Linked DNA regions of Homo sapiens: all the other regions are linked to region 1. Evidence: fine-mapped expression QTL. A gene starts in region 1. Each other region holds a variant in brackets. All regions are shown on one strand. Distances are from middle to middle. Region 1 holds the start of SLC48A1 (solute carrier family 48 member 1). Region 2 overlaps LOC124902925 (a long non-coding RNA gene). Region 3 holds the start of LOC124902926 (a long non-coding RNA gene). Region 4 has its middle 96 kb from the start of RPAP3.

What was found. PIP is the estimated chance that this variant, and not a neighbour inherited with it, causes the effect. A credible set is the group of variants that fine-mapping cannot tell apart.
Region 2: its variant is the best candidate, but not a certain one, in a credible set for the expression of SLC48A1 in visceral fat (GTEx, PIP 0.59).
Region 3: its variant is the best candidate, but not a certain one, in a credible set for the expression of SLC48A1 in whole blood (INTERVAL, PIP 0.77).
Region 4: its variant is the best candidate, but not a certain one, in a credible set for the expression of SLC48A1 in whole blood (INTERVAL, PIP 0.64).

The regions. Positions count from the first base shown.
Region 1 is chr12:47,772,079-47,774,764 of GRCh38, reverse strand. SLC48A1 (solute carrier family 48 member 1) reads right to left here and starts at 1,527. Exons shown (of 3, transcript NM_017842.3): 1 at 1,325-1,527. The coding sequence starts at 1,460. RefSeq lists enhancers at 295-799, 800-1,306 and a silencer at 1,052-1,661.
Region 2 is chr12:46,954,875-46,957,560 of GRCh38, reverse strand. LOC124902925 (a long non-coding RNA gene) reads left to right here. Exons shown (of 2, transcript XR_007063287.1): 2 at 519-898. Among named protein-coding and RNA genes, the nearest start is that of PCED1B, 120 kb to the left of the region's middle. The variant C/T (reference allele first, on the strand shown) is at 1,596.
Region 3 is chr12:47,799,883-47,802,568 of GRCh38, reverse strand. It overlaps HDAC7 (histone deacetylase 7), which reads left to right. Exons shown (of 26, transcript NM_015401.5): 2 at 295-345. LOC124902926 (a long non-coding RNA gene) reads right to left here and starts at 1,489. Exons shown (of 2, transcript XR_007063290.1): 1 at 1-1,489. The variant A/G (reference allele first, on the strand shown) is at 1,300.
Region 4 is chr12:47,608,917-47,611,602 of GRCh38, reverse strand. No RefSeq gene overlaps it. Among named protein-coding and RNA genes, the nearest start is that of RPAP3, 96 kb to the left of the region's middle. The variant G/TGTGTGTGG (reference allele first, on the strand shown) is at 1,096.

The sequences.
Region 1 (2,686 bases):
CAGAGAACACCCTAGCCAGGGTGCCCATCCCCCCTTCTTGGTGACCCAGTGCTTTGTTGGCATTGTGTAGGGTGGGGCCCTGTATGCCCCTCTTCTAAGGCATTAACCCCACCTCATGCTGCGACTCTACCCAGGGATGGCACTCAGCACTCCCTGTGGCAGTGAGTAAATTAGTTATTTTTAGTTATTCCATTTAGGGTTCTTTTGGCCGAGGATTTTAGTAATGGAATATAATCATCATATGTAAAAGTATTATACGTATTTTCTTCCCAAAGTCCTTTCCCACACATATTATTTCATGTAGCTGTGTAATCCCGGGTAAGCAATTTATTTAACTTCAGGCCTCAGTTTCCTTATCTGTAAAATGGACATAATCGTAAGGCCTACTTCATGAGACTAATGTAAGGATTAAATGAAATAAGGGAAGCAGGTTGCTTAACATAGTGCCTGACACATAGAAAGCATTTTTTAAAATGTTAGAAAGTAGAGATAATATTTTTCATCTTCATACCAATTCTATGGCGCAGAGAGGTTAAACTGCGAGCCCAAATGTGCACAACAAGGAGCACTGGTCAGCCCAGAGCCCCCATCAGCGCACCGATGCTTCCCCTTCCCTCCCAGAAGCACAGAAAGGGCGGCTGGCCTGCAGGATTTGGCAGAGCTTGGCTGAGGAGCCACAGCAGACGGGTAGCAAAAAGGCACCAACATGGGTGGAAAGAGAATGTCCAGTTTCTATGAGATCCCTAACGCCGTCCTCCCTGTGGGTCTCAGCAGAGGGCTCTGCGGGGGAGCCCTCTGGAAGGAGGGAGATGGGCTTCCCCAGCCACCCCTAGCCCTCTTCCTTTCCCACTTCTTCCCTCTCTGCCCTCACCCAGCACCCAGGGAAGGGGCGCCTGGGGGGCAGGGGATCCCTCAGAACAACCGTGTGTGTGTGCGTGTGTGTGTGTGTGTGTGTTTGGGGATAGGAGGCGACCAGCGCCGCGGGCGCGCGGAGGGGACACTGTCGTGGGGCAACTGGGCGGAGGGCGACAGGCAGTGTGCCGTGACAGATAACCCGGGCGGCGCGGCAGGTCTGTGCAGCCGGCAGTGGCGGGCCGTCGGCACCCCCAGGTGGCGCCCGGGCGGGCATCGGGTCTCAGAGGCACCCAGGAATGCCCAGGAGCCCGGGCCCGCGTGGGGCCTGCCGCCGCCAACCGCTGTTTTCGAGTAAACACTCCACCCGCTCCGCGGGGAAGCGCCGCTCGCGGGGAGCGTCCTGGAGCAGCTGACGGCGCCCGCCCCGCAGCCGCGCACCCGCCCCGCGCCGCCCAGCGTCCCGGGGTACCTGCGAGCCCTCCCATGGCCGCGGTCCCCGGCTGTCGGTAGACCACCGTCCAGACGAGGAAGATGGAGAAGCCGGCCACGGAGCTGATGCCGGAGTAGGCGGCGCGGAGGCCGAGCTGCAGCCTGGACGGGGCCATGGGGCTGCGGCGCCGGGCGGGCCGAGGGCGAGCGCGGCCGAGAGTCACAGGTGCAGGGCCCGAAGCCGCCAGCCGGAGCCGCGGGAGCCGCCAGAGCAGCCGGCGCCCCGCGCTCCGCCCCCGGCCCGCCCCCAGCGCCGCCCGCACAGCGCCCTCCCCGGCCGGAGGCCGCCCGCGCCCGGAACCGCAGACGCCACCGCCGCTTTGCGAAGCTGCCGTGTCGTTTGGGGGAATGCTGCTAAAAAGGCGGATTCCTGGGCCCATCCCCAGACCCGCCGTGTCCGGATTGTTGGACCTTGGAAGGGACCGGAAATATGCCTTTATACGAGCGAACCGCGAGGATTAAAAATCTTTACCTCTGAGTACGATGCGTATTTTCGTTTAAAATTAAAATTAAAATTTCTTGTTAAAAATTAATAGGTAAAACTTAAGAAATATTAGAGTACGCTGTGAATAGAATTCCTTCCGCCCGTCCTTCTATCAACCAGGTTCCCTCCCACCATATCGCAGAGGATTTCTCCACACACTAAAGTCTGGGAACCCCTGCGACCATCACCTTCTGACTGCAAACATTCTATACATTCTATCCTCACGCACAGCTCCCCACAAATCCCTACTTTTTTTTTTTTAAACAGAGTCTCACTCTGTTGCCCGGGCAGGAGTACAGTGGCGCCATCATAGCTCCGCATCCTCCAACACCTGGATTCAAGCAATGCTCTCACCTCAGCCTTCCAAGCAGCCAGGACTACAGGTGTGTGCCACCACGCCTGGCTAGTATTTTTTGTTATTTATTTTTTGTAGAGATAGGGTCTCGCTATATTGCCCAGGCTGGTCCCCAACTCCTGGCCTCAAGCTGTCTTCCCACCTCGGCCTCCCAAAGCGCTGGAATTACAGGCTTGAGCCACTGCAACGGACCTCACCTTTCCTTTTATCAGCACAAGCCTTATCCTCCCAAACCCCTCACCCTGACCCTCGGGATCATACCATTGTAAGGAAGAGACAGATCTGTAGCAGGAGGGCACTGAGCTCCCACGTGAGCCCAGCTTCCGGCCGGGAGCTGGAGGGAAAATCCCAGCACAATAACAAGGGCTCTGCCACAGCACTAAGGATCCACATGGGGAGGCCCATCATATACCTGCACAAAACATAACCAATACCCCTTGCATTAGTTTTTTTTGTGTGTGTGCTGCCGTAACAAATTACCACAAATTTACTGATTTAAAATA
Region 2 (2,686 bases), 820 kb after region 1:
CTATCCCATTGGAGGTTTGGTTCCAACATATAAATTTTGGGAGACACCAGCATGATGTGGATGATAGCAGCTCTGAAACTCATCGTAACCCAACATTCTTTGGACTTAAAGATGAGACCTTTAGCTAACAAAACTTACCATGAGGTAGAAACACAGAATTCCAGTGTATTAGATTTTAAAGGGAAATGTGACTGTCAAGGAGATCTCACATTTAGGTCAGTCTGATCAGTGCAAAGTACCTGAGACATTTACTTTGGGGAATCAGGAGAGTTGGTTATGTGAAAAGAATGTGCAACAAACATCAACTCTGGCAGTGTGATGTATCCATCACTATAATAAGAATATGCTGGCCAGGGAGCCTGGGTAAATCCACTTCTTGTTGCATGACTTGGACACACACAATTCAAGTTTGCTTGCAATCTTAATGTGACTTTAAATATCTCTCTTTACTCCAAATTATGCTGGACTTACGTCATAGCTTAACTCTCAAAGAGCATTCTCACTTTCCTTATTTCTAGGTTTTAAGGACCATCCCTGTCTCACCTCCATGGACTGTCTACAATATGCATGGTCAAAAAGTAGACCCGTTCTGCAACCGGACAGCAGAGAAATGTGTCTGTGATACCCACACAGTCAAGAGGCACACTTAAAATAGCATCAGACCCTAAAAAAAGATAGGAAATGACCACAGACCAGTGGGCCAGACAGCACATGTATCCTCTGTCCAGGACCCATGGCCACTGTTGGCAGGCCTACCACTGAGGCAAATCCTACTAGGAGGTGGAAGTCATGAAAAGAGTTTTTCCACATTCCTTTCTGTGATCTACAGTAAAAACCTCAGGGAGATATTGAATCATCTGCTGTTTTTTACAACCCCAATTAAACAAAATTTTCTGCACCTCCTTCTCCTTCCGCATTCTTCCCCCCACCCAGTTTCCTTCTTCCCCCTTTTCGTCAATGGAGTGGTGTGGAGGAGGGTAACTGAAGCTAGGTTGGGGATTTGTTCCCAGACCACAGGAATTAGAAACAATTTAAACAAATGTTTAAATTATCAGGATCCTCTTTGTTTCTAGCTTAACTAAGAATTGCAAACGGTATCTATGAAATTTCTCTTTTTCACTTCCCATGTGCTGTTTCCAATGCAGTTTCATGAAGACACATACACAAAATCTTCTAAAATCCTTGTCTTTTCACATCACACCAAACAGTAATACTGTTGATTACACAGGTAAAACTTGCCTCAAAAGATGTTTTGTAGTCGATATACATTAAACCAAAGCAGAGTATTTTGGGGACCCTTAACACCTAATTTTTTTTTTTTTGTTAATCAACACTTTCATGTTTTCTTGAAGCTAATATCAGTTTAGGTGCTTATCACTGTGCAAGGCAATATGATTCTAATCAAGCCAGCAAACGTAACTAAGAAGGCCTGCTGCCTGTTGCTAGAGGGCTCGGAGGGCCTTCAGATGCCAGTGAGACCCCAGCCTCAGCTGGTGTCCTGGTTCAAAAGAATTCGGGGATGAGTCCGAATGATGCGAAAGGCAAGAAGCTTTGATTCCAAAAATGAAAGTACACAGTTGAGAGAGAAGTGCAGG[C/T]GTGCTGACGAGAACAAATCACACACAATTAAGTTTAGGTTTTTAATTTTATGGGTGTTTCTTTAATTAGGGGGTGGAATAATCATTCTGGAAAAGGAGAGGATTTCGGGGACCCTTGTTACCATCCCCTTTTTCTCTTTTTCGGGTTTGCCAGAAAGAGTCATAGATATGTCAACCTGACCAGGATTTTGGCCATTTGTTGTCCCTTCTTTTGGGTTTTCCATCAGCCCATGGTTTATTTGCCTAGTTATTGTTTTAGCTGTGGTTGGGGGTTTTCTATCCTCCTGTGCCTGCCCAGTGCTATTCCTATTTCAGACCCATCAAGTGCATTATGAAAGCAATATTTGCATACATTTGGAAATACTAAGGTCTCATCTCCAAATTATTGAAATCCATAATTTCAGATCAATCAAACTAAATAGTCATACCCTAGGAAGTTCTGTCTCATAAGAATAAAGCAAATGTGGCACATATACACCATGGAATACTATGCAGCCATAACAAAGGATAAGTTCATATCCTTTGCAGGGACTTGGATGCAGCTGGAAACCATCACTCTCAGCAAACTAATACAGGAACAGAAAACCAGACACCACATGTTCTCACTCATAAGTAGGAGTTGGACAATGAGAACACATGGACACAGGGAGGGCAACATCACACACCGGGACCTGTCAGGGGGTGGGGGGCTAGGGAAGGGATAGCATTAGGAGAAATGCCTAATATAGATGACGGGTTGATGGGCGCAGCAAACCACCATGGCATATGAATACCTGTGTAACAAACCTGCACATTCTGCACATGTATCACAGAACTTAAAGTATATATATAGCATCATTGAGTATTTTCATATTGCAATGTATGCTATTTGTTTGTTTGTTTTAATTTCAAAATAGAAATCTAAGCAATGTCTTTCAGAGATCAGCTACTAAGGAAAATGCAACATCATCTTATGCCTGCTCCTTTGTATTTATTTTAAAACAAGTTAATCTATGAAAACATCTATTTTGAAGAGAACTTTAGAGAACTTAGGCTATTTTTTAAACTATCTAGCCTATAAATTCCCCAAGAGTGAACACTTGTCTGCCTCT
Region 3 (2,686 bases), 28 kb before region 1:
CACTGCTGGGTGAGCTGAGGCCTCCTTAGGTTCTTGCTGTAGTCTGAGTTCAAGTCATTTAGAATGAGTGACTTGAGGAAGAGGGAGCTGGGAGCCCTTTTCACCAGCAGGGGGACTGGAGGAGTCGAATGGGGTGGGGTCTTCTCGTTTTGATTAGCTTCTGGTGGAGGTCCCAGGCTTTGGCGTGCTCAAGCTTGGAGTGGCAGGGAGCAGGCCTGGCTTGACCTTCTTTCCTTCCTGCTCCCTCTCCTCACCCCTCCCTGCAGCTCTTTCACTCCGTCTCTCTCTCTACAGATGGGACCCAGGTGAGCCCGGGTGCCCACTACTGCAGCCCCACTGGCGCAGGTAAGAGTCAAACCCGGGGGAGTCCATGGTAGGGAGTGGAAGATGAGGGGTGGAAAGGCTGTAAGAACGCGAGAAGCTGAGGGGTTAGAGAAGCAGGGTCGCTGGCTGATCTGCCAGAGAGCCAGGAGGTGGCGGCTCCAGGGAGGGGCGAGGAGCCGGGGTAAGAGAGGCAGCTCTGGATGCTGGCTGGGCACAGTGCTAGGAAACACAACAGGAAAAGGAAACACAGGATGCCCGTCTTGTCCTTGCTGGGAGCAGTGAAACAGGAAGGAAAGTAAGAAGCTAATATTTATACTGAGACCCCTACCCCATGTCAGGCACCAGGCAAGGTGTGTTCTTGTGTGTGGACTCGGTCCTCACACCGGCTCTGCAAGGTGGGCATGGCAGCCCTTGCAGGACTGCTCTGCTGGAGGGGAAGTGTTCTCTCACTGTCTGCGCCTCCTCCCTCTGCTGGCCCGAGCCTCCTCTGCTGCTAGGCTGCCCTGGGGAAGGACTGGACTTCCTGCTGCTGCTTTGGTTTAGGACATGCCCATGGGGCCAGGTCTGGACTAGACGCGGTCTGCCCTTCCTTTAGTGTAGCCAGTATCAACCAAGGGCCTACTGAGTGCAAGATATACAGCCTGATGCCTAATAATTCCATATAGCAGGGAGAAATGGAACCCAGGTATCCTCCTTGCTTCAGTCCTGGCTGTTGAAAAGCTAACAGGCAGGTTAGGGAGGAAGCACACACAAATACAAAGCGAAAAAAAATAGAATGCAATAATGTGACCAGTGCCCAATGAGAGGACACTGATTCATGAGTTTATCCATTTGTTCAAGAATCATTAATGAGTTCTGTCTCTGTGCCAGGGTACTTTCCTGGACATTTTAGGAGAGACACTGATTTATTCATTGATTCTATGTTTGTGGAGTGCCTGTCATGTGCTAGGTACTATTCCAGGTGCTAGGAATAAT[A/G]AACAAAGCATGAAACCAACTCCCTGCCCTATGGAGCTTAACTCAGACATGGTACCTGCCCACAGAGCACTAATCCTGGTGTGGAACAGCCATGTGATTGGAGTCCAAAAGAGGGAGGGATGCTAGGCGCTGGCTGGGTCCAGGGATGAGGGAGGACTCCAGCTGAGCTTTGAGCAAAGAGTAGGATTTGGAAAAGTAGAATGTAGGGATGAGGACAGCACAGGCAGGGGGACATTGTGAGCAAAAGGTCAGAGAACAGAAGAGATGTGGATTTGTGACAGGTGGAAGCTGATGGCCAAGGTGGAGGGTTCATGTTCAAATGCAGACCAAGTTGAGAGAAGCCAAGTTAGGACCAGATTGTGGAGCCTCACAAATGCTAAAGCACCTCGAAAAGTATTTCCAGGGCTCCAGGCAGAGCCCATCCTGTATTCCCTTCTGCTGTGGAGGCAGTGGCCATGCAGAGTGTGAGGGGAAGGGCCCCTGCTGGGGGTCTGCTCACAGTCCGTATGTGGCTGAAGCCACTGGTCTTGGGTCCAGGTCGCTGGCCTTGGTTCCCCCAAGCCCCTCTTGCATAATCAGGGGAGTCACCCCGGGAAGCCAGGACACAGAACATGGAAGGACTGAAACCTTTCCTGGGGCAGGAGTGTTTTGGTATTCGAAACCCAGACTCAACCCGAATGAGAATCCGGATTTCTTGGGAGGCAATGTGAACAAGGGGTGGGGCATCAAAGCCATACATTTTCTACTGCGGGCGGCATCTGGGTGCACAGCCATCACTGTCCCTCCAGGCCTCTTGATATTCGGGGGACATGGCGGGCACCTCCTTGCTGGGCTCCTGTCTTGTGTCCATGTCACAGTCAGGGAATGTTAGAGTGAATGCCCTTTAATGACAGCCTACTGCAAACCCCTCTTTGCTTAGTGAGAAAGCCCCTTGAGGGGAGGTGAATTCCTGAAAGTTGGTGGGAAACTGGAGTACCTGCCTTGGTAGGACCAGAACCCATGCTAGCTCTGCCCCTAGCAGGGTGACTTTGGACAGGGCCCTTCACCTCCGAGCCTCGGTTTCCTTATTTAGGATAACAAGATAGTAATGACTACCCCCCGGGGCCAGTGGCTTGATGTAGCTGCTCATGCACAAGTGCTGTAGATGTAAAGATTGTGGTTAGGAGTGGCCAGCTTGGGCCTGGAGGCTATGATTTCTGACTCCTGGACTGGTACTTTGCCACAGGCCTTTCCAGCCCTCCTCAGCCCCAATCCCTGAGGACAGTCTGTGGCTGCCCCACTGGGAGATGCCCAGCGTTGGAATTGCTGAAGGAGGCCTCTCCAGGAAGGCTTCTCCACTTGTGTGCCCTCCCATGGGGCCGGCCTGCTCCTACCCCACCCACTTCCC
Region 4 (2,686 bases), 160 kb after region 1:
TCACCAGGATAAATTCACCTAAGTCAGAATTAGTCATGATTAGTTTAGGTTGGCAAGGAGAGGGAAAATTAGGCATCATTTATTTCATTCTTAACAGGAAAAGGTGCTATTAAAACAAAAACGAAACAAACATTCCAGGGAAGGATGGAATTAATCACAGGCATAGATTGCTCCTTCAAAAGTAATTCTCATCAGTGAGCTCTTTGTGTAGTGGTTGACAGCTGAACAGTCTGGTAATAAGATGTACAGGGCAGAGGTTCTCAGGAGGACCTCTTCACCCAAAGTGTTTTAGTAGAGAAGAAGGGGTCCAAATGCTGCTCGTGGTAAAACATCATCTCAGAAATTCCCTATTGTGAAAATGGCAAAGGGATTTTGTGGGAGAAAGCTTGTTAGGGAGAAAACCAAGGTTTGGCTTTGTCTGTTTTTTTCTTTTTTTATTCCTGGAGTCATGCCAATTGCCAGACATACTAAGTGCACATAGTTATGTGCCAGACCCTGCATTAGGCCCTGGTAATATAGAGAAGTGACTCACAGTCCCTGCCTCAAGAGCACTGAGTACAGAAAAGGAGACTGACACATGGACTATGACAGTACTTTGCACTGTGGTAATGATATGCTGTATAATGTAGGGTAGGCTAACTTCTGTAACAAACAGCTCCTAAAGCCCCATGATTTAGCATAGTAGATGTTTGTTTCCGTCCTCTATTACAGAGTAGAGCAGGTGCTTGGCAGACAGTCCTCACATAGCTCCAACAATCTCCATAGTCTCAGAGTTCTCTTCTGGATCCTCTGCAACCAGTCAGCAAATGAAAGAAAGAGGAAACTGGAGTGTGGCACAGGAAGATTTTGGGGGATAGGTTTGGAAGAGGTGGCCATAAGCCATTCATTAGAGCTTAGTCCTCTTGGCCTCATGTAATGCCATGGCTAGGTAGCCACTTTCTGGCAACAGCTTTGCACTGTGGAAGGGGAGCATCAGTCTTTGATCAAGAGCCAACTGTTTCTGAGACTTATGCATGGGGTAGGGGTGTAATGGGAGCTCAGAAGAGAGGTAAACCCATTGGCATGTGTGTGTGTGTGTGTGTGTGTGTGTGTGTG[G/TGTGTGTGG]TGGGTAGGGAAGGGAAAGTATAGCAAAAGCTTTCCAGAAGAATTGATACTGAAACTGAGTTTTGGAAGAAAAATGGGGTTTAAATCATAAAAGGCAGTGGGAAAGGACATTTTAAATGGAAGGAACAGTGTGTGCATAGGCACTGAGGTATTCATTAATTCATTCATCCATTTAAAAAATCGTTACAGATGTGCCTTTCAGGTATCAGGAGTCATTCCAGATGTTGGCAATACCACTATACATAAACCAGACAAGTCTCCCACTCTCATTACCCAATATTCTAACAATGGGAGACAGACCATAAGGAATCAGCAAATAAATACACAACTTAAAAAATCAAATTGCATATTATGTGTTGGGGAACTGCATGTCTTTAAGTAGGGCTGGGGCAAAGGTTGCATGTTGGAGGTGGGGGTGGAACAAGTGAAAAATGATGAGACTGGAGAACGTAGAAAAGGCCAGCCATGAGAAGGCCTTTCATGCATTAAGCGGCATCAGGAAGAGGATATGGACCTAGATTTGCATTACAGAAAGGTCACTGGCTTATGACTGCAGAGAGACTTGTGGAGTGGCTGCAGGGAGGCCAATTATTAGACAATTGGAATAATTTAGATATGCAATGATGAGGTCTTAGTGAGGAGAGGGTGGAAATGAGAGTTACAAAGGAGATGCTGTGCGCAGGACTAGGGAGTTGTATCACAGGAATGAAGGTAAGGGAAGGCTCTGAGGATGACCCCTCCTTCCTCCTTCCAGGTTTCAGGCAGAAAATAAGCAGCATGTGTTTCCTTGAGTTCAGTGCAGCCATTCTGATTTGTGTACACTTTTACATTAAAATAAGTATTGTTTACAAGATGTCACAAAAAGGCTAATAAACTAAAATTTTACTCTGTCTTACTAGAAAGCAGTGGGAATAAATTATGTTATTTTAATGTAATATGTGGTTTATGCATTTTGGTTATTTGGCTTGTTTCCATTTGCTGTTCCAGATAGCACCTCTTATGAATAGCATCACTGTGAGTGGGGCATCCATAGAGCCTGTTGGGGTGGGCACCCACCAAACAGCATCATTGGATGAAGAATGTCTGCCCAACATGACAAGTTGGGAGAAAAACTCATTTGAATATATAGGTTATGGACTGAATGTTTGTGTCCCCCCAAATTTATATGTTGAAACCCTATACTCAGTTATGATGGTATTAGTAGGTGGGGCCTTTGGGAGGTAATTAGGATTAGATGAGCTCATGAGTCAGGGAGCCTTCATAAATGGAGTTAGTGCCCTTATAAGAAGTAACAGGAGAGGCCAGGCACTGTGGCTCATGCCTGTAATCCTATCACTTTGGGAGGCCGAGGCGGGTGGATCACCTGAGGTCAGGAGTTCGAGACCAGCCTGCCCAACATGGAGAAACCCCGTCTCTACTAAAAAAAACAAAAAATTAGCTGGGCGTGGTGGTGGGCACCTGTAATCCCAGCTACTCTGGAGGCTAAGGCAGGAGAATCGCTTGAACCTGGGAGGCCGAGGTTGCAGTGAGCCAAGATTGCACCATTGCACTTCAGCCTGGGTGACAAGAGTGAAACTCTGTCTCAAAAAAA